Linked DNA regions of Homo sapiens. The protein of the gene in region 1 purifies or fractionates together with the protein of each later gene. This does not show direct contact. Each region holds a gene or a part of one and is shown in the gene's direction. Other genes may lie near its edges. The genes, in order: PTPN23, NTPCR, ARL1, YTHDF2, PPP4R3B and GLUD1.

Evidence for each region.
Region 2: the proteins of PTPN23 (region 1) and NTPCR purify together in Homo sapiens (affinity purification with mass spectrometry; one large-scale study listed by BioGRID and IntAct). This does not show direct contact.
Region 3: the proteins of PTPN23 (region 1) and ARL1 purify together in Homo sapiens (affinity purification with mass spectrometry; one large-scale study listed by BioGRID and IntAct). This does not show direct contact.
Region 4: the proteins of PTPN23 (region 1) and YTHDF2 fractionate together in Homo sapiens (co-fractionation; one large-scale study listed by BioGRID). This does not show direct contact.
Region 5: the proteins of PTPN23 (region 1) and PPP4R3B fractionate together in Homo sapiens (co-fractionation; one large-scale study listed by BioGRID). This does not show direct contact.
Region 6: the proteins of PTPN23 (region 1) and GLUD1 purify together in Homo sapiens (affinity purification with mass spectrometry; one large-scale study listed by BioGRID and IntAct). This does not show direct contact.

The regions. Positions count from the first base shown.
Region 1 is NC_000003.12:47,387,521-47,391,020, forward strand, and holds part of PTPN23 (tyrosine-protein phosphatase non-receptor type 23), read left to right. Parts: intron 1-3,500. UniProt on the Homo sapiens protein: Plays a role in sorting of endocytic ubiquitinated cargos into multivesicular bodies (MVBs) via its interaction with the ESCRT-I complex (endosomal sorting complex required for transport I), and possibly also other ESCRT complexes.
Region 2 is NC_000001.11:232,981,611-232,984,382, forward strand, and holds the end of NTPCR (cancer-related nucleoside-triphosphatase), read left to right. Parts: 3' UTR 1-2,272; downstream 2,273-2,772. Other genes in the region: PCNX2 (pecanex-like protein 2), read right to left, coding at 2,694-2,772. UniProt on the Homo sapiens protein: Has nucleotide phosphatase activity towards ATP, GTP, CTP, TTP and UTP. Hydrolyzes nucleoside diphosphates with lower efficiency.
Region 3 is NC_000012.12:101,401,273-101,404,772, reverse strand, and holds part of ARL1 (ADP-ribosylation factor-like protein 1), read left to right. Parts: intron 1-1,826; coding exon 1,827-1,908; intron 1,909-3,500. UniProt on the Homo sapiens protein: GTP-binding protein that recruits several effectors, such as golgins, arfaptins and Arf-GEFs to the trans-Golgi network, and modulates their functions at the Golgi complex.
Region 4 is NC_000001.11:28,760,940-28,764,439, forward strand, and holds part of YTHDF2 (YTH domain-containing family protein 2), read left to right. Parts: intron 1-3,500. UniProt on the Homo sapiens protein: Specifically recognizes and binds N6-methyladenosine (m6A)-containing RNAs, and regulates their stability. M6A is a modification present at internal sites of mRNAs and some non-coding RNAs and plays a role in mRNA stability and processing.
Region 5 is NC_000002.12:55,611,123-55,614,622, reverse strand, and holds part of PPP4R3B (serine/threonine-protein phosphatase 4 regulatory subunit 3B), read left to right. Parts: intron 1-3,500. UniProt on the Homo sapiens protein: Regulatory subunit of serine/threonine-protein phosphatase 4 (PP4). May regulate the activity of PPP4C at centrosomal microtubule organizing centers.
Region 6 is NC_000010.11:87,060,344-87,063,843, reverse strand, and holds part of GLUD1 (glutamate dehydrogenase 1, mitochondrial isoform a precursor), read left to right. Parts: intron 1-1,008; coding exon 1,009-1,188; intron 1,189-2,791; coding exon 2,792-2,929; intron 2,930-3,018; coding exon 3,019-3,156; intron 3,157-3,500. UniProt on the Homo sapiens protein: Mitochondrial glutamate dehydrogenase that catalyzes the conversion of L-glutamate into alpha-ketoglutarate. Plays a key role in glutamine anaplerosis by producing alpha-ketoglutarate, an important intermediate in the tricarboxylic acid cycle.

The DNA.
Region 1 (3,500 bases):
GGTGAACCAAGATCTCGCCACTCCAGCCTGGGTGTCAGAGACCCTGTCTCAAAAAAAAAAAAAAAAAGTTTGTTTCTTAGAGTAGCCCAAGGAATGCCCTACATTTGAGTCAACTCTGGAACTGGAGAAAAAAGAAACATAATGTAACTGGTGAATAAAGGTAAAACTAACACATGTGATGCCTTTTAATTGCCTTTTCTTCTTGTCTTATTGCTTTAATTAGCATGATGAAATTCCAAATGTTAAATTAAGAGCAAAGCATACATAGAAGAATGAGAACATACTAGTACAAGAGAAGGTGACACAGAGGGATTAATATTAGGTCTGGAGTCAGGAAATCTGTCTTGGGGTCCTAGCACTATCATTGCTTATCTGTGGTTTGCCCTTTCTCTAATCTGCAAAATCATGGCAGGACCAGGATGGTTGTTTCCAGTGATCTCACCTAGCTACAAAATTCTCTACTGTTTGGTGCTCAGTAAAATAGCAGAGTAGCATCATGGAAATAGCATAGCTATTGGAATCAGACCTTGGTTTAGGTCCCCTCTCATTCCTTTAATAGCTGAATGATCTTGAGCTGTCACAAAGATTACATAACTAATGTAGTCCTCACTTTTCTTACCTGAAACATGGAACTAATAATATACCTCATAAGCTTCTGAGAATCAAAATTAATGCTTCTAAGTTCTTTTTTATTTTTATTTTTTTAGAGATGGGGTCTTGCTGTAACACCCAGGCTGGAGTGCAAAGGCACGATCTTGGCACACTGCAGCCTCTGCCTCCAGGTCTCAAGTGGTCCGTCCACCTCATCCTCCTGAATAGCTGGGACCACAGGCACGCACCACTCTGCTAATTTTGCTTATTTTTTTTTAGAGATAAGGTCTCACTGTGTTGCGCAGGCTGGTCTCAAACACCTGGGCTTAAGTAGGTATATAAGTATATACACCTACTATGTACCCACAAAAATTAATGGGGTACTTGATATGGCCAAACAGGTATAGTAATCACATCAGGGTAAATGGAGTATCCATTACCACAAGCATTTATCCTTTCTTTGTGTTACAGACAATCCAATTATACTTTTATTTTTAAATGTAATAAATTATTGCTGACTATAGTTACCCTGTTTTGCTGTCACTACTAGATCTTTTTTTTTTTTTTTTTTGAGACAGAGTTTCGCCTTGTCACGCAGGCTAGAGTACAGTGGCACAATCTCGGCTCACCACAACCTCCGCCTCCCGTGTTCAAGCGTTTCTACTGCCTCAGCCTCCCGAGTAGCTGGGATTACAGGCACCTGCCATCATGTCCAGCTAATTTTTGTCTTTTTAGTAGAGTCTGGGTTTTGCCATGTTGGACAGGGTGGTCTCGAACTCCTGACCTCAGATGATCCACCCGCCTTGGCCTCCCAAAGTGCTGCGATTGCAGGTGTGAGCCACCACGCCCAGCCTCAAATACTAGATTGTATTCATTCTATCTAACTATATTTTTGTACTCATTAACCATTCCCACTCCACTCCCCCACCCCACTCCCACTACCCTTCCCAGCCTCTGGTATTCATCATTCTACTGTCGGTTTCCATGAATTCAGTGGTTTTAATTTTTAGCTCCCACAAAAAAGTGAGAACATGCAGAGTTTGTCGTTCTAATGCTTGTTAAGTTCTTAGTACAGGTCTTGGCCTATTGTAAACAATATTTTCACCTGAGCATCTTCCTTCCCTGTTTGGGAAATAACTCGAATCCTTATGACAGCTCTGAGCTAGACGTAGCAAGTGATATTAACCCCATTTTACACATGAAAAAAGCCAAGCCTAGGCTGGGCATGGTGACTCATGCCTGTAATCCCAGCGCTTTGGGATGCCGAGGTGGGAGGATAGCTGGAGGCCAGGAGTTCGAGACCAGCCTGGGCACCATAGCAAGACCCCTGTCTCTACAAAATAAAAATAAAAATTAGCTGGGGCCAGGCATGGTAGCTCACGCCTGTAATCCCAGCACTTTGGGAGGCCAAGGCGGGTGGATCACGAAGTCAAGGGTTCGGGACCAGGGCCTGGCGCAGTGGCTCACGCCTGTAATCCCCGCACTTTGGGAGGCCGAGGCGGGTGGATCACGAGATCAGGAGATCAAGACCATCCTGGCTAACACGGTGAATCCCCGTCTCCACTAAAAATACAAACAATTAGCCAGGCGTGGTGGCGGGTGCCTGTAGTCCCAGCTGCTCAGGAGGCTGAGGCAGGAGAATGGCGTGAACCCGGGGGGGTGGAGCTTGCAGTGAGCTGAGATGGCACCACTGCACTCCAGCCTGGGTAACAGAGCGAGACTCCGTCTCAAAAAAAAAAAAAAAAAAAAAAAGGAGTTCGAGATCAGCCTAGCCAACATGGCAAAACCCCATCTCTACTAAAAATACAAAAATTAGCTGGGTATGGCTGCATGCACCTGTAGTCCCAGCTACTTGGGAGGCTTAGGCAGGAGAATTGCTTGAACCCAGGAGGTGGAGGTTGCAGTAAGCCGAGATGGCGCCATTGCACTCCAGCCTGGGTAACAGAGCGAGACTCCGTCTCAAAAAAAAAAAAAAAAAAAAATAGCTGGGCATGGTGGCACACAGCTGTAGTCCTAGCCACACAAGAGGCTGAGGTGGGAGGATCACTTGGAGTTTGAAGCTTCATTGAGCTATGATAGTACCACTGCACTCCAGCCTGCCTGACAGAGCAAGACAATTTAAAAAAACAAAAAACAAAAACCAAGCCCAGATTTCACAGCAACTCAGGGGCACTGTTTCCCACTTGTAATCTGGTAACTCCTTTCTTTTCTTTTTCCCCTCGGTGGCTGTGATCCCTGGACGTGCCCTCACTGAGAGCTCTCCACGGGTCTTCTTTTATTCCTTCAGAAAAGGATCCCCAGCTACTTCAAAGCCTGGCTGTTTTTGGAGGTTCTCTGGTCTTCTTCCTGTTAGTTGTGTAGGTACTGGGGTCCTGTCAGGGCCTCTGGTTCTTTCTCCTCGTCTGCTGCTGGGCCTGCCTTCTCAGCCTCCATTGGAGCTTCATACTTCCCGCTAGACTGTTCCGAGTTCTGCAGAGTCCCAGACCATAGCGAAATGGGGACAAGGTCTCTGTCCCTTACTCCAGGAACTTCACCCAGCCTCTTTCTTCTTTTTTAGTGGAGGAGTGATCAGCAGTCACAGAGGATTTTGTTAGGGTTTTAAAAACATCCTTTTGCTTCTAACAGGCTGCAAATAATAATAATAACATAAATATCCTGGCTGCTCCACTGACTCACTGTGTGGCCAGGGATTCATTTTCTGTGCCTGTTTTTCAGAGTTGTTTGTAAGAACCATATTTTTAAAAAATAGAAATGCTCTGGGAGGCTGATGTGGGTCAACTGCTTGAGCCCAGGAGTTTAAGACCAGACTGGGCAACATAGTGAGACTCCCATCTCTATAAAATAAAAAAAAGTTTGGGCGTGATGGCTCATGTCTGTAATCCCAACACTTTGGGAGTCTGAGGCAGAAG
Region 2 (2,772 bases), on another chromosome or scaffold:
AATCAATAATGCCAAATTGGCCACATGATTTATATAAAACCAAGTGCTATGGTTTTAATATTATCTTTAGAGGAGAAACCATTTTGATCTGTGTCCAAATAACTCTTTTTTTTTTTTTTTTTTTTGAGACAGAGTCTCACTCTGTCGCTTGAGCTGGAGTGCAGTGGTGCTATCTCGGCTCACTGTAACCTCCGCCTCCTGGGTTCAAGCGATTCTCCTGCCTCAACCTCCTGAGTAGCTGGGATTACAGGCACCCGCCACCACGCCCAGCTAATTTTTTGTATTTTTAGTAGAGACGGGGTTTCACCATGTTGGCCAAGCTGGTCTCGAACTCCTGACCTCATGATTTGCCTGCCTCAGCCTACAAAAGTGCTGGGATTACAGGCGTGAGCCACCGTGCCCAGCCCCCAAATAACTCTTGAACTGGAAAATAACTCTTTAGCTATATACTGGCAGAATATTTGAACAACTCTAGCAAGAAATGTCAGTTTAGGGATGCCTCCTCTAAATGGGGGCTTAGAATATAACATTTTGCAGGAAGTCCTTTCTGATACATAGCTGACTAGATGAAGGACCAGATTAACAAGTTCATGAGTTGTAAATATAAAAGTTGTGTACCACGATAAAAAAGAAAAAGAAGTATGGCTGCACTGTTGATGGCTGGTCAAACAGCCCCCAAGAATCCTGGGGTGACTCCAATACTGCCACCTTTTCTCTGTGGGTGCAGTTGCCTGCGGATGTGTGTGCACATCTGTGCCTCGGTATGCACACTCGAGATGCCCGCTCTCATAGACGGTGCAGAGCGTCACTGCATTCCTATCTGATTAATGTGACCTTAGTGTTGTAGATACACTGTGTCACTTTCATCCTCCCTCCTCCCCACAAAAGATGCCACGAGAACTCGTGAACTGTGATAAGCAATGAACAGAATAACTGTTGAAGAAGCACCTCATGAACCTCCCCAGAGAAACGGGATGGAGGAGCACCCAGGGTGCTCTTGCTCTCTTGCCTGCGCTGCCATTTCCTTCCAGCCTGGGTTTCTAGCTCTTTGGGGAGATTCCCCGTTTTGTGGAATGCTTTCTGTGTTTCCTACTTCTGGATGCCTAAGGAGTGGCCAGTCATACTCCTGGCTGACCACTGCCAGGCACCGTGGTTTTCCTCACTGAACTCAAGGAGTCACCCTCCGTGGGGAGGCCACACTCACAGCTCCAGGCCTGCCATTTAGCCCTTGGGGCTTGGCTGTAAAGTTGCCCAAGAGGATTACAGGAGCTGCCAGCCAAGTTTAATTTGGCCACCTTAGAGAACTGCAGCAAGGCCCTATCAGCTTCCCATTAGACAAACAACTGCATTTAAATTAAATAAAGTTTGCACCTCTAGGGAGTGCTGACCTGAAAATAAGAACCTTCTGTCTGTGATTATAGAGTACACTTGCTTTTATTAATTGCTGATTCTTAGTTTACAAAAAAAAAAATTAGAAAAGCATTACCATTTACTTTCCAAGGGGCAAGAGATTCTCTACAATACCCTTCCCCCAACCCTCTCCTCAAATTTCCAAATCCTAAATACTTTGAAGAAATTTGTGTGACTGTTTAAAATTGAGTATTTCCTTCTAACTATTGTCTTTTGAAAAGGGATGGTTCACCAGGCCAGTGATACTCTATGGACTGCATTTTGGGACCTCTACCCCAGCAAGGATACAGGTTCCTGGGGTCTTGAAGATGGGAAAAGTTGTCTCAGAATTTACCCAAATGTCGTTCTCACCATAAAAGATATACTTGTAGAAATGAGAAGCTTCAGTATAACTCAAAACACTGGACGCAGCAATAACTATAAACATTTTAATTTCAAAAACAAAGGTGTGTGCGATGTTGTGTGCACAGTAAGGGTTGCGGGGCTTGGAGAACAAGCACGCGTCCCTGTGAAGCCCGCAGGGTGCTGGCGGCCCACCAATCGCCTGGACTACAGTGAGGAGCATTGTGTGACTCCGCGGTGGATTTCCATGCACCGAATGGACTCAGTTTCTAAACTCACATCCTAACGTATCCTGGCTTTTCACAGAATACTGGAGACATGACTGCATGCATGATCACGGTTCTTGTTGTGAAGCTGCCACCATGTTACGCTTAACAGCTGCATAAATATTATAAAGAAATAGGGTTTTCTTGACACTTAGATTTAACCTTAATGCATCTGCCCAGCTGATGGTATCAGACGTGCTGCTGTTCATTTCTTTTTCATGGTAACAGTAATGTATAAAGTGCCGATGATGTAACATGCAGTTGTCTTATTTTCATCAGGGCATTTGTTTCATGGCTCTGTTGAGTTGTTTTAAGTTAGTGAATGGCTTTTGAGATTTCAGATTCTGGAACATGTGTGGTGCTGTCCGCGGTGTGCCGCTCTGGGCAGCGCTGTGCCTGGCCAGGGAGGTGTGGTGTGGCTTCTTTGTTGCTTTTTTTTGTTTCCCCATCATGTGAGGTTTTTTTGTTGTTGTTGTTTGATTTTTTTTTTTTTTTTTTTTTTTTTTTCAAAAACCTGAGATCAGTTCTGTGTTCTGGAACAGCTCTCCTTTTCCACAGGAGGAGTCCCTCATGGATCGCGGTATTGGTTGGTTGTGGTGATTTGGGGAGCACGAGGGAGAGCAATGCAGGTGGGAGGTGTGGGGGAGCCAGCCTCCCCGCCCGGCCGCACGCCCGTCACTGCTCGTCTGACACACTTTGCTGCGAGGCCGTGTCGTCCAGGCCCATGTCCTCCTGGCTTGCTCTCCTGCAGACA
Region 3 (3,500 bases), on another chromosome or scaffold:
CTGTTGTTATTTATACTTTTTTCATTTGTTGCCTTGAATTTACTTAGAGAAGAGTAGTACATTTAAATTAAAGAGTTCATACAGTTTGCTCAAGATTTTTTAAATTATGCCTCTAATGTTAGTCTGTCACTCAGGGTATTTCTATATTGTTACTGTTTAAATTTATGGACTAAAACGAAAGAGGCTAGCCTCTAAGAAAGAAGAGCGTTTTGAACCCTGTAATGTCTGTTATTCCTTTTTGCTACCTTCAGTAAATTTTAGTGCCCTTAGTTTTTGCTTCTCAAAATCACCCATCTCTGTCTGGGCATCTCCTGCAGTGCACAGAGCAGCACAGTGGATAGTTTGGAGTTTCAGTGAGTGCTGCTTTACACCACACTCTTTGTTGAGACAGTGTCTTGCTTTTTTGCCCAGGCTGGAGTGCAGTGGCACATTCATAGCTCACTGCAGCGTCTACCTCTACCTCTACCTCCTGGGCTCAAGCGATCTTCCCACCTCAGCCTCCCAAAGTGTTGGGATTACAGGCATGAGCCACTGCACCCAGTCTACACCATTCTCTTGTCTTGCACATATAAACGATGTTTTTTACTGTTGGTGAACATTGTGATTACACTCCTACCTAATTCTAAGGGAGACATCATGAACTTGCATTTTAGTTTTTTGCTCAAATTTGTCATAGTATTGTTATTTTTTAATTGTAATAGACATACTTGCCAAATACTCAAAGGTATCACTTACCACTGCAGACTTAAATATAAAACAAAAGCTAATTGTCCAGTTATACCTGGAAGTTATTTTTTATTTATTTATTTTTTTGAGACAGAGTCTCACTCTATTGCCCAGGCTGAAGTGCAGTGGCAAGATCTCGGCTCACTGCAACCTGTGCCTCCCAGGTTCAAGCGATTCTCATGCATCAGCCTCCAGAGTGGCTGGGATTACAGGCATGTGCCACCACACCCGGCTAATTTTTGTATTTTTAGAAGAGATGGGGTTTCACAGTGTTGGCTAGGCTGGTCTCGAACTCCTGACCTCAGGTGATCCACCCGCCTTGGCCTCCCAAAGTGCTGGGATTACAGGTGTGAGCCACCGCACCCAGCCATGGAAGTTATTTTTTACCTATTTTTCACCTAAGAAGGATGGCAGAGAAAAGGGATGGGACACCTGCCCTTTGACCACCCAGCCATGACCTTATTACAAGTGAGTTCTGGAGGATGTCTGCAGATGGGCTGTGAGATTGAAAGCTGCAGCCATGGCTGTGTCCATGCTGTAGTTTAGAACTGAAGTTTAGCTTTTTTTCTTTTGGTCTGTTTATTTGCTGCCAGCCAAAATTCTGCTTTTTATAGTACATCCACAACTGTACTTTCTAAATACAGCTTTCGAACACTTTTAACTACTCTATTATGAGGGGAGTTTAATATAATAGGATTTCCATTGAGCTAAAAATTATGTTTTCCTTTTTATTTCTTTTTTAAATTCTTTTTTTAATTTATTTGAGCTAAAATTATATACTTTATTTGCAGAACTGCTGGCTTTTAAAAAATATCCTGAAGATGGTATTGATCTTGCTAATTGATGTTTTGTGCACACACCTGCACATGTGTGGGGGAGCAGAGCATACTATTTCGTCTTAAATGGTATAAAATCTCAACCAATAATGTGATTCAACAATTACCATTTCTTTTTAACTCGAATCCTAAGACAAATTATATATATATATATTTTAAACTCTAATAACAGTTACCATTAATTGCTGTAACTCAATTAGATAGGATATTTTGAAGGTGGAATGTATTAGTCTACACATACCACTGATTTGATTTCTCTTCCAGCCATTGGATTTAATGTAGAGACGGTGACGTACAAAAACCTTAAATTCCAAGTCTGGGATTTAGGAGGACAGACAAGTATCAGGTATGGTACAAAGACCAGGTTATTTGGTAGTATTTGACATTTATTGATTCTTTTAAGGGTTAAAATCAGTAAACCCGAATATGTGTTCTATTGTAATTTAAATGGAGCCACCTAGTTTAAAATGAGGTAAAATTGGGAACTATTTCCTTAGAGCATCCATTGAGTTAAAACTTAAGGAAGCCCAGTTTTCCAGATACCTGTTTAATGAAAATCTTTTCACGAAAATCTCAAGACCTTATTACTTCAGCTATTCTCAATTAGAAAGGACCCTCCATTTAGTTCTTGTCAGTCTCTCCTCTCTGAAACACATTGTTTTGGAATTCATTAAAGTACCTTGCAGGCATACCATTTAGGGCTAATATAAAAATAAATGCCATTGGCCGGGCATGGTAGCTCACGCCTGTAATCCCAGCACTTTGGGAGGCCGAGGTGGGCGGATCATCAGGTCAGGAGTTGGAGACCAGCCTGACCAACATGGTGAAACCTCGTCTCTACTAAAAATACAAAAATTAGCTGGGCATGGTGGTGCGTGCCTATAATTCCAGCTACCTGGGAGGCTGAGGCAGGAGAATTGCTTGTACCAGGACTTGGGAGCTGGAGGTTGCAGTGAGCTGAGATCGCGCAACTGCACTCCAGCCTGGGCTACAGAGCAAGACTCTGTCTCAAAAAAAATAAATGAATAAATAAAAAATAAATGCCTTCTGAAGTTCAGGTCTTCTGCTTAGCATTTTGGGCTTGACATGGCAACAGTGAATGTTTGATGACCGTCAGTAGTTGGTCACGATAGTACCATCTTAAAAGATTAGTAATGCATTCTCCAAACATTCTGACTTCTTTTAACTCATTTCTTGAATCACGTTTCTTTTTTTTTAAATTGTGCAGCCTCCCAAGCCAGAGTAGGCTCAGAGAGACTCCATTGAATCACTTTTGAGTTTATTTATAATTTTAGCCATTTCTACTGCTTGATGTCAGTGATTAATTTCATGACTGTTAAATAAAATCACGTTTAAAAAGTTTATTCCTCTTAAGGGGTGCCTAGTTAAAGATTTGTTTAAGAAGATGTAATGATCAGGTCTGTGTACAACTTTTCTATCAGTATATTTAGTGATTTCATAGATTATAAATAAATTTTGTCAGCCTGAAGTCTGAATGAATTCATTTGGAAACTCCCTGGTCCTGTGAGTCAATGTTTATCAACATTCTTTTTTTTTTTTTTTTTTTTTTTTTTGAGACAGAGTTTCACTCTTGTTGCCCAGGCTGGAGTGCAATGGCACCATCTCAGCTCACTGGAACCTCTGCCTTCCTGGTTGAAGTGATTTTCCTGCCTCAGCCTCCCGAGTAGCTGGGATTACAGGCACCTGCCACCATGTCCAGCTAATTTTGTATTTTTAGTAGAGATGGGGTTTCTCCATGTTGGTCAGGCTGGTCTCGAACTCCCGACCTCAGTTGATCTGCCCTCCTCAGCCTCCTAAAATGCTGGGATTACAGATGTGAGCCACCGTGCCCAGCCAATGTTTATCAACATTCTTTTGACTCCATCACATCTGAGGGATATGGTACATATATCCACCAGAAACAGTGAATCATTAAGG
Region 4 (3,500 bases), on another chromosome or scaffold:
TTGCAGTGCGGTAGGTTTGTTTACACCGCATTACCACAAACAAGTGAGTAATGTTTTGTGCTACATCCTTACAGTGGCTTCGACATCGCTAGGTGATAGGAATTTGTCAGCTCCATTATAATCTTACTGATCTGTCATTGACTGAAATGTCATTATATCGTGCATGAGTGTGTGTGTGTGTGTGTGTGTGTATTTTTTTTTTTTTTTTTTTTTGAGAGAAGGCCTCACTTTGTCACCCAGGCTGGAGTGTAGTGGCCTGATCACAACTCATTGCAGCTTTGACCTCCTGGGCTTAAGCATACTTTTTCTTGCAGCCTTCTAAGTAGCTGGGACCACACAGGTGTTCGCCACTATGCCTGGCTAATTAAAAAAACTTTTTGGAGAGATAAGGTTTCACTGTGTTGCCCAGGCTGTTCTTGAATTCCTGGGCTTAAGTGATCCTCCTCCTTTGGCCTCTCAAATTGTTAGGATTCCAGGTGTGAGCCACCATGCCTGGCCTAATGTTTAAAAATTTCTGGCTGGTGCGGTGGCCCATGCCTGTAATCCCAGCACATAACGGAGGCCAAGGCAGGTGGATCACCTGAGGTTGGGAGTTCGAGACCATCCTGACCAACATGGAGAAACCCCGTCTCTACTAAAAATACAAAATTAGCTGGGCATGGTGGCGCACGCATGTAATCCCAGCTACTCAGGAGGCTGAGGCAGAAGAATCGCTTGAACCCGGGAAGTGGAGGTTGCGGTGAGCCGAGATTGCGCCATTGCATTCCAGGCAACAAGAGCGAAACTCTGTCTCAAATTCTAGTAGAGTCAGGTTCTCAGTATGTTGCCCAGGCTGGTCTCAAACTGCTGGTCCCAGCCTCCCAAAGTGCTGGGCTTGTAGGCAGGAGGTACCATGGCCAAAATAGATATTTTTAATAAAATATTATAGCCTTGCTTTAAATTGGAGAACTGATGAAAAATACTTTGTCTCTTTATCTGGGGGAAGTTAGCATCTTAATTATATATGACTTGATGTTTCATATATATATGACTTGAAGTCTAAAGTCAAGTCATTAGACTTATTTAACTTATTCACGGCATTGGAGACTATAAAGGTTGATTCTATTAAACCATATCAAGCAATGGAAGTAATTTTTGTGTCATCACATCACTTTTAAAAACACATTTTCCTAGCCGGGCGTGGTGGCTCACGCTTGTAATCCCAGCACTTTGGGAGGCTGAGGCGGGCGGATCACGAGGTCAGGAGATCGAGACCATCCTGGCTAACACGGTGAAACCCCGTCTCTACTAAAAATACAAAAAATTAGCCGGGCATGGTGGCGGGCACCTGTAGTCCCAGCTACTCGGGAGGCTGAGGCAGGAGAATGGCATGAACCCGGGAGGTGGAGCTTGCAGTGAGTGGAGATTGTGCCACGGCACTCCAGTCTGGGCAACAGAGCGAGACTCTGTCTCAAAGAATTTTAGAATGAGACTCCGTCTCAAAGAATGACTCCCGTCTAAGCATTTTATATTGTCAGCTGGGGTGCTGAACTTTGGGTTTCTTTCAAGGTTCATGGGGGCATAGGAAAAACTAGTTGAGAGCTATATAGATTTAATTTTGTGGGAGAGATAAACATTTACCAGATTTTAATGTTAATAAAATTATATCCAGGTGAATATGAATATGCCTCAGTTGTGTTTTATGGCCCACTTGAAAGTGAAGGGAGAGGGAGGGATAGAACAGTGCAGTAGTAAGTAGAAAGGTTATTAAGCTTAAATAGAGGGAAGCTAAATAGGCAGATTTACTGTTTTTGAATATTATATGAAGAGATTGCATATGTGCAGACTTTAACATTGCCACCTTATGGCTTTTTGTATATTTCCTCCAGAGACTGAATTTTCTATTTTATTTTATTTTATTTTTAATTTTTATTTTTGAGACAGAATCTAGCTCTGTTGGCTAGGCTGGAGTGCAGTGGCGCGATCTTGGCTCACCCGGGTTCAAGTGATTGATTCTCCTGCCTCAGCCTCCTGAATAGCTGGGACTACAGGCATGTGCCACCACGCTTGGCTAATTTTTGTATTTTTAGTAGAGATGGGGTTTCACAATGTTGGCCAGCCCTGTCTTGAGCTACTGACCTCAAGTGATCCACCTGCCTCGGCCTCCCAAAGTGCTGGCATTACAGGCATGAGCCACTGCACCCAGCCGAGTTTTCTATTTTGTAATCATAGATTTAAAGTGAGGAGGGCCTAAGGTGGATGGGTGGATAGAGATGTCGACATTATTTCTAGTTATTTAAGCCACAGACCAGATCTGTCTGGACTTGTAGTTTCCTAATTTATTCATAGTTAATATCTTTAATGTTTTTATTTGAGACAGAGTTTTGCTCTTTTGCCCAGGCTGGAGTGAAGTGGCGTGACCTTGGCTCGCTGCAACCTCTGCCCCCTGGGTTCAAACAATTCTCCTGCCTCAGCCTCCTGAGTAGCTGGGATTATAGGTGCCTGACACCAGGGCTGGCTAGTTTTTTATTTATTTTTAATTTTTATTTTTTATTGAGATGGAATCTCCCTCTGTTGCTCAGGCTGGAGTGCAGTGGTGCGATCTCAGCTCAGTGCAACCTCCACCACCCAGGTTCAAGCGATTCTCCTGCCTTAGCCTCCTGAATAGCTGGGACTACAGGTGTGTGCCACCATGCCCAACTAATTTTTTGTATTTTTAGCAGAGATGGGGTTTCACCATGTTAGCCAGGATGGTCTCGATCTCCTGACCTGGTGATCCGCCCACCTCAGCCTCCCAAAGTGCTGGGATCACAGGCGTAAGCCACTGTGCCCAGCCAATTTTTTTTTTTTTTGGGATTATGGGCGTGAGCCACTGAGCCTGGCCGACAATTTATAATTGTATATATTTATGGGGTACAAAGTAATCTTAATTTTTTCAAAGAACCAACTTTTGTTTTTTTTTTTCCTATTATATATACTTTAACTCATGCCAGCTCATATCTTTATTATTATTATTATTTTTTAAATTTATTTATTTTATTTTTTTTTGAGACGGGGTTTCTCTCTTGTTGCCAAGGCTGGAGTGCAGTGGTGTGATCTCGGCTCACTGCAACCTCCATCTCCCAGGTTCAAGCGATTTTCCTGCCTCAGCCTTCCTAGTAGCTGGGATTACAGGCATGTGCCACCACGCCCAGCTAATTTTGTATTTTTAGTAAGAGACGGGGGTTTCTCCATGTTGGTCAGGCTGGTCTCGAACTCCCGACCTCAGGTGATCCGCCCACCTCGGCCTCCCAAAGTGCTGGGATTACAGGCATGAGCCACTGTGCCCGGCCCAATTTTTTATTTTTATTTATTTTTATTTTTATTTTTTTGAGACGGAGTTTTGCTCTGTCACCCAGGCTGGAGTACAGTGGCGCGATCTCAGCTCACTGCATCCCCTGCCTCCTGGATTTAAGCAGTTCTCTGCCTCAGCCTCCCAAATGGCTGGGATTACAGGCGCCCACCACCACGCCCGGCTAATT
Region 5 (3,500 bases), on another chromosome or scaffold:
ATTCTGAAGTTGATGTGTATTCTTTGTGTACATGCTTTTATACCTTTTCTGCATATGTATGTATCCATAAATAATATGTAGTCTGTTGTGTGTTTTTAAACTTTACACAGTGGATGTCATACTCTTACATGTATTCTGCAGCTTGCATTTTTCACACATTCATTTTGAATATTCGTTCATGTTAACAATGTAGATCTAGTTTTCTTTTTAAACTCTGTATAGTATTCTTATGTATGACATACACTTGTTGTTATACATTTGAATTATTTCCAGGTATTCTTTTTTGTGTGTGGTATGTAAAGTCACGATGGCAGAGATTTTTGAAGGAAGATAAATTATTTTAGGATTACATTTACAGCGTCAGTGCCCACTTCAAGGTTTATGAAAATTTGGATGCCCAGAAACAAGTACTTCGTAGTTGGAGGAATAAAATTCTGTCTGTTGTGCAGCTTATTATTACAAAGTCTTACTGTTAGAACAATTATGTATATAACACATTCTTAATCAGTTATTTGAAATACTTTAAAATTTTCAATATTCAATTCATAGCTTTTTTCTCTGTTTAGAAAATATTGTGTGTCTTTTTTGATGGAGAAGCAAATTAAACATTTGTCCTGAATTGAAAACCTGAAGATGTTTCCTATACCTTAGACATTGTAAGGTAGACATTTAAGTAAATTTAATTTCTCAGTCAGCCAGGCAGCTCTTAATCTCTGTCTTTATACCGAGTTTTTACCAGATGATCACTTTTAGTTTGTTTTTGTTTGCTTGCTTCTTTGTGGGGAAAGAAATACTAATTTTTTTTTTTTTTTTACCATATTTCCCTTATCTGCATGAATATAATTATCAGGAACTTTGTTCTTAAATGTAACTAAGTCATAAACAGTTCCCTACAAATTTAGGTTTAATAATGGATTCTTCTCAGATTGTATATAAGATCTTTTAGCTGTTGTTACTTTGGAAACATCACATTATGGAGTAGGTTTGTATTTAAAATAGTCACCCAACATAAGTTAAAAATACATAGTGATTCTGTGAATACTTTAGAATCATTAGGATATGTAGGTAATTTCATGTATAATGTTGCTCTACTAGAAAATTAGTTCTAGATAATTAGCATTTTTGTATACACTTAGTATAAAGTATTGGAAAAAATGCATTATTTAAAAAAATTACACCATTTGGAAATGTTTTCTGTAATCACATTTAAATAATATACTATTTGGGGTTTTGTAATAGTTTATTTTTTCGTTGGGCTTTTTTTTTTTGGCAACATAACATTCAGGTGTATAAGAGAACTCTGGTAATGAGAAGAATATGGAAACACTGAAGAAGAGTGAAAAACTTGTGTGAATGATGTTACCTGTTTATTTTTGTTTAAATTGAGTACACTTTTCTAATTGAAATCATAGGGCCATTTAGGGGTTATGTTAAACTTAGTTTCTTTGTAATAGACATGGTTTTTCATATTTTCACCCAAATCTTCAATTTGCACTTTTGAAAATAATTTTTTTGAGAGGGTCTTCTTCTGTCCCTTAGGCTGGAGTACAGTGGTTTGATCACAGCTCACTGCAGCCTCAACCTCCTGGGCTCAAGCGATCCTCCAATTTCAGCCTTCTGAGTAGATGGGATTATGGATGTGAGCCACCATGCTTGACTAATTTTTTTTTTTTTTTTGAGATGGAGTCTCGCTCTGTCGTCCATGCTGCAGTGTGGTGGTGCGATTTCTGCTCACTGCAAGCTTCGCCTCCCGGGTTCACACCATTCTCCTGCCTCAGCCTCCCAAGTAGTTGGGACTACAGGCGCCCGCCACCACGCCCAGTTAATTTTTTTGTATTTTTTAGTAGAGATGGGGTTTCACCGTGTTAGCCAGAATGGTCTCGATCTCCTGACCTCGTGATCCGCCCGCCTCGGCCCCCCAAAGTGCTGGGATTACAGGTGTGAGCCACCAAGCCCGGCCAACCTTACTAATTTTTTAAAAAATTTGTAAAGATGGGGTCTCGTTATGTTGTCCAGGCTAAATTTGCACCTTTAAAAAATTTATTACAAAACTTTGTTGTTGTTGTGTTTGTAGAGACGGTCTCACTGTGTGGCCCAGGCTGATTTGAATTCCTGGCCTCAAGTGATCCTTTTGCTTCAGCACCTCCATGGTGCTGGGATTACAGGTGTGAGCAGTGGCTGTATTCAGCTTAATTTGTAGTTATTTGAAGTTACACAAATTGAGATTTCCAAATACAGTAACATTTTTCTATGTTTGTTAGAATTATCCTTTGTAAAAGGCATCATTTAGGTTATTCAATAAATTAGTCTAGAAAGTTATTAATTTCCAAATATCACATGAAGTCTGTTGTTCAGTAGTGGAGTTAAAATTTAAAAAATTGTTTTCAGAGATGGGATCTTGCTATGATGCCCAGGCTGAGCTTGAACTCCTAGGCTCAAGTGATCCTCCCATCTCAGCTTCTCCAGTAGCTGGGACTGCAGTAATGGGTTAAATTTTTTGTTTCCATTAGCGGGTTTTTTATTAAAAACTTAATGAGTAAGTGAATGAGATGTTTATAGGCCATTTTGCTGTATTAAAATATGTTGACTATGGCAGGCATGGTGGCTCACACCTGCAATCTCAGCACTTTGGAAGGCCAAGGCAGGAGGATCCCTTGAGCTGAGGATTTCGGGAACAGCCTGCACAACATAGCAAGATCCCTGTCTCTACCAAAAAAAATTCAAAAATTATCCAGGTGTGGTGGTGCGCAGCTATAGTGCCAGCTACTTCTGGAGGTGAGACGGGAGGATCATTTGAGCTTCGGAGGTCGAGACTGTAGTAAGCCATGATTGTACCACTGCACTCCAGGTGGAGAGACAAAGCGATTTTTCTGTCTCAAAAAAAAAAATTGAGTAAATTCAGAGGGGAATGTTTAACATTCTTCTTTTAACATTATAGTTTTAAAATGAGCCAACTACTAAATTGTGTGCTCAAGATACATCTTTTCTTTCATAAATGAAGTACCAAATTGTGAGCCTAAAAGGAGTTAGAATGAGTCAAGCTGAATGTCATATGACTGGATATTGAAAAGTCATTATTGATTCACATCACTTTCTTCCTTACTGTGCATAGTACTGAAGTCGTTAATGGAAGAAGATGTACTTACCCAATAAACTTAAGCATTTAAACATGTTGGAAAGAGAAGAGAATCATTATATGATACAACATGAAATAACATACCTGATAGGTGTGACAGAAATTTTAAGTTACTTCAAATCAGTCCCACTGATACTGACTAAATCAAAAGCAGAGTCAAAGCCAGGTGTGGTGGCGTGTGCTTGTGGTCCCAGCTCCTTGGGAGGCTGAGGCTGGAGGATCACTTAAGGCCAGGAGTTTGAGGCTGTAGGGTGCTATGATTGTGCCTGTGCGTAGCCATTGCACCCCAGCCTGGGCAACATATCTTAATAAAAAACAAGAGTCATACTAGGCACAGTGGCTCACACTTGTAATCTCAACACTT
Region 6 (3,500 bases), on another chromosome or scaffold:
AACCCCCATCTCCACTTTGCAGAGCTAACCACTGCTACCAAAGATACTCTGCTCACACAGAAGCACAGGACTCTTACCCACACATACCTTTTTAAAAATACTTCATTAAATACTTTCGTTACTCTACTCTTAGATGAACTTGAATGTCATGTTATATTAAGTATCAAGTTATATTAAAAACTTCCTTTTTCAAAAGTGGCAGAATACAACATTGAGTCTTCCCATCCAAGACAATTGTAAAGCCTCTTCCTGTCTCAGGCTCTGTTTTGGTGACATGCTCAAGTCTTATAGTAGATTTTAAGACACTCATGAATGGGATGTGTATGTACCTTGATTTAGTAGTGCTTAAATACTTGTTGAAGGAATGATAGCTTTAGGCTGAGCTAGCTCTACTTTTGTGATGTTATTTGTACTTACTTGATGTTCAATCCCTACACTCTTGTTTTTTCTGTCAGAAAATATGGTCTACTTTGCCGGGCGTGGTGGCTCACGCTTGTAATTCTAGCACTTTGGGAGGCCAAGGCAGGGAGATCACTTGAGGTCAGGAGTTTGAGACCAGCCTGACCAACATGGAGAAACCCCATCTCTACTAAAAACACAAAATTAGCCGGGCGTGGTGGCACGTGCCTGGAATACCAGCTACTCAGGAGGCTGAGGCAGGAGAATCGCTTGAACCTGGGAGGTGGAGGTTGCGATGAGCCAAGATCTCACCATTGCACTCCAGCCTGAGCAACAAGAGTGAAACTCCGTCTCAAAAACAAACAAACAAACAAACAAAAAAAAAAACAGAAAATATAGTATATTTTATTGTATTTTCTAGGAACAGAAAGCTGAAAAAGTGAGTCTTGTCTCTATTGGTAAAAGTATACCTTAAATACATTCATACACACACTCCTAATTAGCATATTTTTGATTAAATGAGAATGTGCTTTGACTTTAATTCATTATGTTCCTTCAACAGAGAAATTGGACTTGACATTTCATTCTTTCAATTACCCCCTCTTACAGGATATTAATGCACACGCCTGTGTTACTGGTAAACCCATCAGCCAAGGGGGAATCCATGGACGCATCTCTGCTACTGGCCGTGGTGTCTTCCATGGGATTGAAAATTTCATCAATGAAGCTTCTTACATGAGCATTTTAGGAATGACACCAGGGTTTGGAGATAAAACATTTGTTGTTCAGGTAAAAACAAAAACAAAAAAAGTTTCCTTAATAACTGATAGACATTAAGTAAAGTTTTCAATGTTTTTAGAATTGTAATTTTAAAATTAAGTTATCTCAAATCTCTTAAATTTTAGAGTGGTGGTTTTCAGAGTAATAGATATTTTGTTTTTTGAACCTTGGTATGATTCATGTAACTAGAACTGATTTAAGTATCTCTCAAGTACATGTGAAACTGTTACCAACTTCAACCAAACTATCACCAAATTCAACCAAAATATTGGTTAGTATTCAAACTTGAAATTATAGCTAGAAGGGCAAGTCTCTTAACATAATTTTCTAAGTTTTGTAAGTATATAGAAAGGTTTACACACTGACCCAAATTTGTTTCATGTGTTAACATGTATTTTACTTAGGAGAATCTTAATTAAGTTGAAATTACTTGAAAATAGAAGTGGTGGCTGGACACAGTGGCTCATGCCTGTATTCCCAGCACTTTGGGAGGCCAAGACGGGTGGATCACTTGAGGCCAGGAGTTCGAGACCAGCCTGGCCAACATGGTGAAACCCTGTCTCTACTAAAAGTAGAAAAATTAAGCCGGGCGTGGTGGCTCACGCCTGTAATCCCATCACTTTGGGAGGCCAAGGTGGGCAGATCACGAGGTCAAGAGATCAAGACCATCCTGGCCAACATGGTGAAACCCGGTCTCCGCTAAAAATAGGAAAATTAGCAGGGTGTGGTGGTACACGCCTGTAGTCCCAGCTACTCTGGAGGCTGACGCAGGAGAATCACTTGAACCCGGGAGGTGGAGCTTGCAGTGAGCCGAGATTGCGCCACTGCACTCCAGCCTGGGTGACAGAGCCAGACTCTGTCTCAAAAAAAAAGAAAGAAAAATTAGCTGGGCATGATGGCGGCACCTGTAATCCCAACTACTCAGGAGACTAAGGCAGGAGACTCACTTGAACCCGGGAGGCAGAGGCTGCAGTGAGCCAAGATTGTGCCATTGCACTCCAGCCTGTGTGAGAGAATGAGACTCGGTCTCAAAAAAAAAAAAAAATTGTATTTCTCCAAATTAGTGACATCCCTTTTCACAACATAGGACATCTGATCATCAAGGACTGAGGACCTGGTGGTGTACTTAACACCACTGCCATTTATTGATTGATTGAGATGGAGTCTCACCCTATTGCCCAGGCTGGAGTGCAGTCTCGGCTCACTGCAACCTCCACCTCCCAGGTTCAAGTGATTCTCCTACCTCATTCTCCCAAGTAGCTGGGATTACAGGCACGGACCCCATGCCTAATTTTTGTATTTTTAGTAGAGACGGGGTTTCACCATGTTGGCCATGGCTGATCTCGAACTCCTGACCTCAAGTGATCCACCTGCCTCAGCCTCCCAAAGTGCTGGAATTACAAGCGTGAGCCACCATGCCCGCTCATCACATTCTTAAACAGAGAATTTTATTGTTGAAGAGAAACCAGTTAGTACATTGTTTCTTTTGGCAAAAGAATTTTGAGAATTGCTTCTAAATAAACAGAGTATGGATTTACATTGGTCAAAATATGACTCTTGCTGTCTATACCAGGACTTTAATTTTTGTGTTATGGGTAATTGTTCTTCACAGGGATTTGGTAATGTGGGCCTACACTCTATGAGATATTTACATCGTTTTGGTGCTAAATGTATTGCTGTTGGTGAGTCTGATGGGAGTATATGGAATCCAGATGGTATTGACCCAAAGGAACTGGAAGACTTCAAATTGGTATTAATACATTTTTATAGCATAGACACTAAATATAAATATTTAAAACTCTGGTGCAGCTATTAATTGTGATTTTCAATCAATGGCAGCAACATGGGTCCATTCTGGGCTTCCCCAAGGCAAAGCCCTATGAAGGAAGCATCTTGGAGGCCGACTGTGACATACTGATCCCAGCTGCCAGTGAGAAGCAGTTGACCAAATCCAACGCACCCAGAGTCAAAGCCAAGGTGACAACATTATAGAAACCAGAACCAACATTATCAATGTGAATGACGTTAGGGGGGTCATAGAAGAGTCTGATTGAGTTTTCTCTTTCTTTTTAGCAGCTTTATTGGCACATACTGCACATACCATACAGTTCCCCCATTTAAGGTACATAATTTAATGGCTTTTAGCTACCGGCACAGAGTTGTGCAACCATTACCAAAACAAACGCATCTGCCTGACACTCCTGTAAAAAAAAAAAACAAGCAAACAAAAAAAAAACCTAGATAAATAGAAAAGTGAAAGGTAGTTTTATACACTTGGCAGAGAAAAATAACCTCTATTTAACTTTAACTGAAACTGTGCT